Homo sapiens: one gene and its partner. The protein of the gene in region 1 purifies or fractionates together with the protein of each later gene. This does not show direct contact. Each region holds a gene or a part of one and is shown on either strand. Other genes may lie near its edges.

Region 1 (6,100 bases):
TGGTGCAGTGTATACTGCTTGGGTGATGGGTGCACCAGGTTCTCACAAATCTCTACTAAAGAACTTACTTGTGTAACCAAATACCACCTGTACCCCAGTAACTTATGGAAAAATATTTTTGTTAAAGAAAGAAATATTTTCCATCTTCCTCAGCGCTAAGTTTATAGTCTGCCACTGTGCACCCTTATAACGATCCTTACATCTAAATGAGATATTCTCATTAAACTTTTCCTATTTCATTAGAAAAATACGTTAAAGTTTGTAAATAGTGATTTTAACATCAAAACTTGCCTTTAACTAGAGGGCCCTAATTCTGGCTCTGCAATACCTATTACATGTCTGTAATTATTATTAATGTTATTGATCAATTTTTCCTACTTTTCCATCTTCTGTGCACATGCTAAGACAGCACTTCCTGACCCTGCTGTAGTCGAATGGGTACATATGATTAACCTTGGTCAATGAGCTGTGAGAAAAACTGGCAATGAGTTACTTACTTTTGGGCTAGAGCCTATAATTACCTACTTAAGACCATCCAGAGCTCTCTTTTCCTCTATCACAATGATAATCAAAATTCCAGAGAGTGACCACTGCATCAGCCTAGGTTTATGAGTGAGCATAGCATGAGACAGACCCTCAATACATTTGAAGTACAAGAGAAATAAATCTGTATTGTTTAAAACCACCAAGATATGTCAATCATTTGTTACAGCAGCGTAAACTATCTTAACTTGAGAGATGACTTATTCTTGGACAAGTCACTTTCCCTCTCTAATTTTTAACGTCATAATCTGATTTAACAAATAAAGGGAAAAAATTAACATTTAGTGAGCATCTCTTAAGTATAAGTTGCTTCGTTATATATAATTTAATTTAGTCTTCTCAATGACCATAAAAGGTATTATCTCCTGCAAAAATATTCCTAAATCCAAAGAAATCTCTCAACTCCACTGCTCATAGAATCCAAGCCACTACTATGTCTTACTAGCCTCTTACCTACCTTCTGTTAAAATTTCTCCCTCGTTAATTCTCCAGTGCAAAATCTTTTAAAGACTTCTCCCTGCCATTTGAATCAGAGCTAAACTCTCTTCCATGGCCTATAAGAGTTTACATGAACCTGTACCTGCCAGCCACTTCAATCTAAGCATTCATACTTTGCTGACCACTTATTAAATTCCAGTTATTCTGGTCTTCCTGATATTTTTAAAACCTATCCAGCTTGTTTCTGCCTCAGGACCTTTGCACTTGCTATTACTTTTGCTGAGTAATACACTTCCCTTAGCTCTTTCATGACTGACTTCATCATTCAGACCTCAGCTAAAGTGACATCTCCTGAGATAAGTTTTCTTTCACCATCCTTGATAAATAATTATTTATCAATTACTATCTGAAATTATATTATTAATTTATTCATTTGCTTGTGTGTTTTCAGAATTCCCTACTGCAAGAAAAGCTCCACTAGGGCAGAGACCTTGTCTTGCTTGTACACTAGTGTTTCTACAAAGCTTAGAACATTCCCTGGCAAATAGTGAATCCTCAAGAAGTTATTGTGGAACGCAATCGAATTAATGATGCAGATAAGGAAATAAGCCTCTAAGAGTTTGGGTAACTGTGCCAACTTTCCTAAATTTCTATGAGTGTTCCTAATTCTGAAGTCCATTTGCCTTTTGCTTACAGCAAAGCTCTGCTGAGACTGAAGAGTCAGTTAGCAGTCAGGGCTAGGCACTGTGCATGCGCCCTTTCAGGCTTCGGATTCTATCGTTGATGCAGTTAAAACCAAAAAGTCACATTAATCATGTTATCACATTAATCCCCAGAGAACCCTGAATTTCCAGTGGAACAAGATAACTTGAGAAATCTATTGATCTCCTATTTTCATCATGCTGTACGGCTGACAAGGGTTAGTGGAGATTGGTATTCTTTTGCCCATGGCCCTGCAACTTTAATTTCTATGTCTACCCAGATTCCCACAACTTTGCAACCTGCATTGCTCAAAGTGCCCATCCATGAAGTTCGAGTGGCTTCTTTTGTGTCAGCTCTGCCTTCCCAGCTCCTTCCCATTCAGGGAGAGGTCTCTGCCTCCTCCCCTGCTTCCTGACTCGAAGCCAGCACCCCTCTCCTCCAGTGCAGCCTAACACACTCTCATTGGCCCTCAGCCTGTCAAGGGGAGGGGCTTGTGTCTCCGGGGCTCTTCAAAAGGGATCGGCGGTCCAGGCAGCCTAACCTGGAGGGTGAAACACTCACTCTCTCCCAGCCTTCCTTACGAAGCCTGTGACTTTCGTGACTGCTTTCTCTTTTTTGTTTTCCTTTTTTCTTTTTTTTTTTTTTTTCCTGGCTCAGCTTGAAACAGAGCCTCGTACCAGGGGAGGCTCAGGCCTTGGATTTTAATGTCAGGGATGGAAAAACTTCAGAATGCTTCCTGGATCTACCAGCAGAAACTAGAAGATCCATTCCAGAAACACCTGAACAGCACCGAGGAGTATCTGGCCTTCCTCTGCGGACCTCGGCGCAGCCACTTCTTCCTCCCCGTGTCTGTGGTGTATGTGCCAATTTTTGTGGTGGGGGTCATTGGCAATGTCCTGGTGTGCCTGGTGATTCTGCAGCACCAGGCTATGAAGACGCCCACCAACTACTACCTCTTCAGCCTGGCGGTCTCTGACCTCCTGGTCCTGCTCCTTGGAATGCCCCTGGAGGTCTATGAGATGTGGCGCAACTACCCTTTCTTGTTCGGGCCCGTGGGCTGCTACTTCAAGACGGCCCTCTTTGAGACCGTGTGCTTCGCCTCCATCCTCAGCATCACCACCGTCAGCGTGGAGCGCTACGTGGCCATCCTACACCCGTTCCGCGCCAAACTGCAGAGCACCCGGCGCCGGGCCCTCAGGATCCTCGGCATCGTCTGGGGCTTCTCCGTGCTCTTCTCCCTGCCCAACACCAGCATCCATGGCATCAAGTTCCACTACTTCCCCAATGGGTCCCTGGTCCCAGGTTCGGCCACCTGTACGGTCATCAAGCCCATGTGGATCTACAATTTCATCATCCAGGTCACCTCCTTCCTATTCTACCTCCTCCCCATGACTGTCATCAGTGTCCTCTACTACCTCATGGCACTCAGAGTGAGTATCTAGGCTGGGGTGGCCTGAGGCAGCATCCCTTCTTTTTTCACAGGCTCAAAGTTCAGAGAAAAACTTAGAATTGGGGAAATTCAGAAATGGAAGGGAACAGAGGGAAAATAGAATGAGCTCAGATGGGAAATTGAGACTTAAAAGGACTTGCCTCAAATGAGATGAATGGTAACCACAACTATTTATCATTTCCTTTAGCTCGTCTTCTATTTTTCTTCCCTCTATTCTTGGGGTTCTCGTATCTAAATGTTCCTAAGAATCATGCAGAAAACTTACTTTGGGAGCAATATGCATACCTCACCCCCAGGAAAATGGGATTCAGAAGGTCTGAGGTGGAGCCTCATTTTAAATAAGCACATCAGGTGATCTGGGGTGAGGTGGCCACACTTTGAGAGACTTCTCCACATCCTGTTGTCACTTTCCAGCCCCTGGCCACTGCCTGCATTGAGATTTTCCTGTACACCAACTTGGTCTGAGTATAACACAAACTATCCCTGCCTATTTTGTAGTCCAAGATAGGTATTCAGTTTTAAAATCAGACATTTACTGTGGTTGCTCCGACCCTTTCATTAAAATGAGGTTGAAACAAAACAAAATAAAACTATATATATTATATGTATAGTTACATATATAATATATAGTCATATATATAATATATAGTTATATATAATATATAATCATATATATTAATGACATGACTGAGATAACTTGAGCTTCTTTTGAGCAGGTGCAGATTGAGAGATAAGGAAGTAAACAGCACATGAGATAGAGTGAAAAAATGTGAATAAGAGCTTATCTGAAATTAAGAAAAAGATATCACTTATTTTGCAACATATATAATTAGAGGTTCTTTTCCTATGTTTATGGTGGTAAACTGATTTCTTTTTCAGAAGGGGGGTGTCTAAATTAGCTGAGAGAAACTATTTTTAATAAGGGTAGGAATTAGTCTATATAATTCCTCTCTGGTATATTCTGCACCCAAATTCATGAAGAGAAAAGTTCTTCACAATGACAATTTTACACCCACTTAAGGGAGGTATTATAGCTTGTGTAGTAAACAGTTACGAGACCATTTAGACTCCCAGATCTACAGCTGACATATAATATGCCTTTAGGCAAGCCACATCATTCTCCTGGAATTAGTTTTCCCGTGTATAAAATGAAAAGGTCACATCAGATCCTATCTATGTCCCCTGTAGCTCTAACAGTCTATTATTCCTTTAAAAAAAGAAAAAAAAACACCTGTGAGCTGAAGTAATGTGAGTTTTAAATGACAGGACAAACAGATATCACATTCACATCATTTGCTTTGAGATGGCTCTGACATCACACTTTATGTGACAACTAATATACTCCTATTTCAGTCCATCTCTGAGAAGCCGATTGTCAGAAGCGAGTGCCCAATGGTAGTCCTTTTGAATACCTATTGTCCCTAAGGTGAATAGCGAGGTCTAAGTAGGAAGAACAAATTCTAAGTGTCACGGACATCTGGGCACAAGAGTAAATCTAATTAGGCAGAGAGCTGTGCCAGTCCCCTCCTGGAGGGCTAGCACCTGTATTCCCAGAGACATGTCCCACCCCGCACTAGCTCACAGCCATGTCTTAAGAACGTCCTGCACATCTCACTGCGGGGAAAAGACTTCTATACAACTCCAAAGAAAGTCTTATGAGAAATACCCACCCACTTAATATTACCTCATCCAATGCCAAACAGTCACCTATTTTGGGTCAATTTGGGAAAAATATTTAACTTTGAGTAGGAAATGCACAGTTCCTCTTCCAATCTGTTACAATCAGTTTCATTGTGTTTTATTATCAAAAGTCCATGGCTACCTTGTATCAGGAGGTAAGTGACAGCTCAGACAAAAGTTTAAAAACCACCCTGGTTTGCTTTGTGTATGTAATGCAACTTTTGACAGCCTGTTTTCAGGAAGGATGAGCTGTTATCCAGGGTACCAGAGGACACCAGGAAAGAAACTAACGCTTACAAAGTCACTTCTAGAAGAATTTAAAAATCTCTATACTGAAACTCAGGAAAAGTAGGCCCTATTCTGTGTCACTGATCGCAGGGCCTTTATGTACACTATACCTGTAGCCTGAAATGTTCCTACTGTCTGCCACCACTCCCCCTTTTGCCTTTCTAACCCTCATTTATTCTCTGTGTCATACTTCAACACGCTTCCTCAGGGAAGCTCTCCCAGATTCCCTGAGCATCCCTGTTTCCTGTTGTAGGTACTCATGGCTCTCCGTGATTTTCCTTCATTACAATTTATATTTCCATACTTATGGATTCCTTAATTAATTGTTTTCTCCCCAACTAGACTGTAAGCTCAGTGAATGAATGAGGCCAAATTACTTCCTTCATTGCTGGGCTTTAGCTTCTCTACCTTTAAAACAAAGACTTGGAAATATCATCTCAAGGAGACCCAAGCAATCCTAATGATTAAGTGAGTGACTCTGTTGGATAGTTTGAAGGTATGATTGACTCTGGGACCCACTGCTTTCAGAAGGCAGCAAGCCCAAGACTGATGAAATCACAGGACCAGAGAAGAAGGAGGAAACCCATATCTGTGCTCACAGCTCGGCATTCAGTCACGCTGCATCATTCCAGGACACAGCCACCACTGAGCTGTTCTCCAGGCTTTGAACATTATAGAGATAGAAAATAGACAATTCTAGGGCAAGTCCCTCCACATGTGGGAGGAAGTTCTGGTGACAGTCTGATTTAGTTCTTACATCTCCTGCATGCTGCATTCATGATTGAGGTGATGAGGATGGATGTATGAATTGCAGCAGAATTCAACCATGCCAACACAGGGTTGCACTAATTTTTTTAAGTAAATAGATTGTGTTAAGATTATAGAGATATTTACACAAAACCTATATTATAATCTGGTATTCTGAAACTAAGTCCCACAAACTATATAAATGAACATCTGGTAGAGTGATTTCAGGCAGTATAAACAACTGATCAGCAT
Region 2 (3,987 bases), about 150 Mb from region 1:
AGCTGAGTGTTTCTGAGGGTGGATCCCAGAGTCATTTTGTGACGGCCGTGTGGTGGGTGGGGCAGGAGTCCCTGGGTGCTGGGGAGTGTGAGGCCCGCCAGGGCCTTGAGGGGTAGACCTCCCCCTCCCACTGTGGGGCATGGGAACCCCGTGGAGCCCAGTGGGGCTGGGCGTGGACGGCATTCAGGAGTGGACCAGCTGGTCTTCAGGGCAGTGGGCTGGGCTGGGGGTGTCTGGGGCCTGGTGAGCAGCTGGCTGGGGGCCCTCCTGGTAACTGACATGGGGGGCTGGTCTCCTTTGGCCTTCCTTCTCAGATGCTGGGGAAGTGCTGCCCAGGGACAAGGGCAGAGCACAAAGGGTTAATACCTTTCCTTTATGAAGAAAGGGGAAACTCCCTTTTGGGGGCAGAGGCCTGTTCTGTGCAGATAAACCTCTGGCTTCAGCGCAGCAGCCTGAACGATGAGCTCCTGAACGATGAGCTGCCTGGCTGGCCATGCTGTCCAGGCCCTGCCTCTTCCCCTGTTTGTGGCCGCTGACTCCCCAAGGGTCCTGGAGCCTCTGGCCGGGAGTGCCGGGGGGCAGGCCCACGGCAGGGTCCCCTTTGGCTGGTGGGTGACTGCAGGACCTCATCCCTGTGGGGAGGGTCCTTTTGGCTGGTGGGCGACTGCAGGACCTCATCCCTGCAGGGAGGGTCCCCTTTGGCTGGTGGGTGACTGCAGGACCTCATCCCTGCGGGGAGGGTCCTTTTGACTGGTGGGTGACTGCAGGACCTAACCCCTGCGGGGAGGGTTCCCTTTGGCTGGTGGGTGACTGCAGGACCTCATCCCTGCGGGGAGGGTCCCCTTTGGCTGGTGGGTGACTGCAGGACCTCATCCCTGCGGGGAGGGTCCTTTTGACTGGTGGGTGACTGCAGGACCTCATCCCTGCGGGGAGGGTCCCCTTTGGCTGGTGGGTGACTGCAGGACCTCATCCCTGCGGGGAGGCTCCTCTTTGGCTGGTGGGTGACTGCAGGACCTCATTCCTTCGGGGAGGGTCCTTTTGACTGGTGGGTGACTGCAGGACCTCACCCCTGCGGGGAGGGTCCCTTTTGGCTGGTGGGTGACTGCAGGACCTCACCCCTGCGGGGAGGGGCGTGTGCTGCCGTTGCAGGGGTCTCGGGGTCCGAGTGGTGCTTGCGGCCCTGGGCTGTGACGTGGGCCCCCATCCTGCCAGCCCGTGCCTGTTTCCGCTCTCCCCTTGGGCGGTGTCTTTTTGAGGAAACAGTTGTGGGGAGGAGAGTGCTGCTTCTGAATCACGTGTGGACCTGGGGTGGTTTGTTTCCTGCGTTCTGGGGTTTTCTTGGGCAGCACCCCACACGCACCCCACACGCACCCCCCGGTGGGCCTCGGCTCTGTGGGGAGTGGTCCTGGGGTCCGGGATGAGAGTGGGCCCCGCCCAGGCCTGTGTTGACCCCTGGAGTCAGATTGCCATCCACTGTAGTGGTTACAGTGGCTCTGGGAAGTTTGGGGGCTGGGACCTGAGCCCAAGGCTGGCCATGGATAGCCGCACGCAGCATGCCCGTGTGCTTGGTTGGCATGCCTGGTTTGTGTGTCTGCCATGGCCTGGAGCTGTCCTCATGGTGGGGTAGCCCCGCTGGCCCTCCCAGCGTTCCTGTCCATTTAAGTCCCGTGCACAGGGGATGTCCACCTTGCAGACGTGCAGCCGGGAGGAGGTTGTTAAAGTGATCCTTGAACATTTGCTCTGTGCCTCAGTTTCCCTTGGCAGGAGCCAGCCTGTCACGAGGGTGGCGGTGGCTGTGACCTCTCATCTCCTTGGCTCTGTCTGCAGACCTCTGGCGCCAGCGGGTCGGGCCTGGGCTTTCAGGGAGGCTCAGAGACGCCCTGGGCAGTCACTGGGGAGGGATTGAGTGGAGTGGAAATCGGAGGAGGGAAGTGCGCCAGGCCAGGCCCCTCCTGGGTCCCCTCCATGCCGCCAAGGGTCCCCGACCGCAGCCCAGAGGCAGCCTGTAACAGGAGCCGCCCTGGGAGGGCCTGGCAGGTGCGCTGGGGGCCCTGCCTCTCCCGCCTTCCTTCATCTCTGCTCCTGCAGGCTGCCTGGGCCCCGAGTCTCTGGAACTAGGGGACCCCACGGCCCCTCCATGGCTCAGACGTCACTCTGGCTGCTGAGGGAGGAGGCTGGACCAGGACCAGCAAACAGCCACGTGACAGAGGGTTCGGGAAGTGAGTTCACCCGAGGCCACCTTCCCGCGAGCAGGCGTGTCCTTTAGATGGAAGGGCTGTAGTCCCAGTGCATGCCTGTGTCCTGGGCACCCCGCCCCGTGGGTCGTGCAGTCTGGGGGCTGTAGCCCCTGGGACTTTGTGCAGATGTGTGTGCTGCAGGTATGTGTGTGTGTACACGTGTATGTGCGGGTGTTGGTGTGTGTATGTGACTGCGGGTATGGGTATGCACATGTGAGGACAGGTGCGTGTGCAGGTTTGCGAGGTGAGTGTTGTGTGTATGAATGAGGGGGGAAGCGTGTGAGTATGGGTATGGAGAGTGTCTTCCGTGTGAGCAAGTTTGCGTGTGCACGTGGAAGTGCCTGTCTGTGCATGTGTACACATGCATGTCTCTGTGCATGTGAGTGTATATTTTCTGTGGCGTGTGTTCATGTGTGTCTGGCCATAGCTTGCCAGGACCTTCCAGCCAGGCTTCCTTGCTTCCAGTGCCTCTGACGGTGAGCTGGGATCTCCCGGCGCTCTCCTGGTTTACAGGATACTGGCGGTGGTGTCTGCACAGACTGTTGGGATGAGGTCACTTCGGGAATGGGTGATGAAGGGCCTGTTTTTCCCTCAGAAGGCAGCGCTGCTTTAGCCAGAAACTTGTGCTGGAAGCCTGAGAGCTTGCCTGAAGCCCCCCGTGTCCCAGCCTGAACACTGGGCCGTTCTCATCCTGTGCCCCTTGAGAGCCTCAGTTTCTAGATTTTAGGGGCCCACACAGCACAAACTGTGAGGGGCAGAGGGAGGGCAAGGGCCAGGGGTCGTCAGCTGGCGTTCGGATCCTGGAACCTAAACACACTTTATTTCAGTGCCCGGCACCTTCACAGGGAGCCCAGCCTCCAGGCAGTGGGGTTGGGAGTGTTCCTGGGTCCTCGCGCCTTCACAGGGAACTCAGCCTCCAGGCAGTGGGGTTGGGTGGGGGGTGCTCCTGGGTCCATTCAGTCTCGGGCTGTCCCCAGAGGCCACGTGAGCTGATGCCACTGGGTCACCAGGTGGGACTCATTCTGCTGTGAGTCCCCTGTGGCTCCAGGGGAGGGTGGCCTGCTGGACCCAGGGGACACACAGAGCCAGGCCTGAGAACCTCCTCGAGTGCAGGGAGCCGGGAAGCCTGGACTTGCTTGTCCCCTGCCCCAGGCCCGGCGCCTCTCTGTGTGCACAGGTCCGGTGCCACCCGCCACTGCTCTGCAGGGCTGGGTAGCTGGACGGACCACCCACGCTGGAGGGCAGGAAGGGGCGGAGGCTGTCGGACCTGGCTTCAGCTTCACAGCCCCTCCTGCCTGTCAGCTGCTTCCGGCTGAGGCTGAGTCTAAGAGGACGTTCCTAGAGCCCTTTGCGGAGAATGGCTGTAAAATCCCAAAACGCGGGAGGAAGAGGGGGAGGGATGAGCCACTGAGAAAGGGAGGAGGTTGTGCCTGGAGATAGGGAGGCTGATGGAGGCATTGTGATCTCAGAGGGGATTAGGGCCGATTAGGGAGGTGAGCCAGCTTCTCCCTGCAGAAACTACCCATGAACGCACTTCCCAGGCCTGGATCGGGATGGGTCAGGGATCTGACACACACACTCTCACTGCCTCTCTGGCTGGAGGGGCTGCCCCTCCTCTGGCCGGGACACTCGTGTGTCTGGTCTTTGCCCTTCCACCTGCAGCCGCCTCCTTCCCTCTCGGGGTGGGGACACAGCCTGGTTGGACAAGCCCAGGAGGCTGTTCCCCAAGGGCCCAGCCCATCAGGATCTG

What was found.
Region 2: the proteins of NMUR2 (region 1) and SLC12A7 purify together in Homo sapiens (affinity purification with mass spectrometry; 2 studies listed by BioGRID and IntAct, with this or other methods). This does not show direct contact.

Annotation. Positions count from the first base shown.
Region 1 is NC_000005.10:152,401,401-152,407,500, reverse strand, and holds the start of NMUR2 (neuromedin-U receptor 2), read left to right. Parts: upstream 1-2,221; 5' UTR 2,222-2,387; coding exon 2,388-3,113; intron 3,114-6,100. UniProt on the Homo sapiens protein: Receptor for the neuromedin-U and neuromedin-S neuropeptides.
Region 2 is NC_000005.10:1,102,064-1,106,050, reverse strand, and holds part of SLC12A7 (solute carrier family 12 member 7), read left to right. Parts: intron 1-421; exon of another isoform or gene 422-493; coding exon of another isoform or gene 494-608; intron 609-1,340; exon of another isoform or gene 1,341-2,137; coding exon of another isoform or gene 2,138-2,219; intron 2,220-3,987. UniProt on the Homo sapiens protein: Mediates electroneutral potassium-chloride cotransport when activated by cell swelling. May mediate K(+) uptake into Deiters' cells in the cochlea and contribute to K(+) recycling in the inner ear.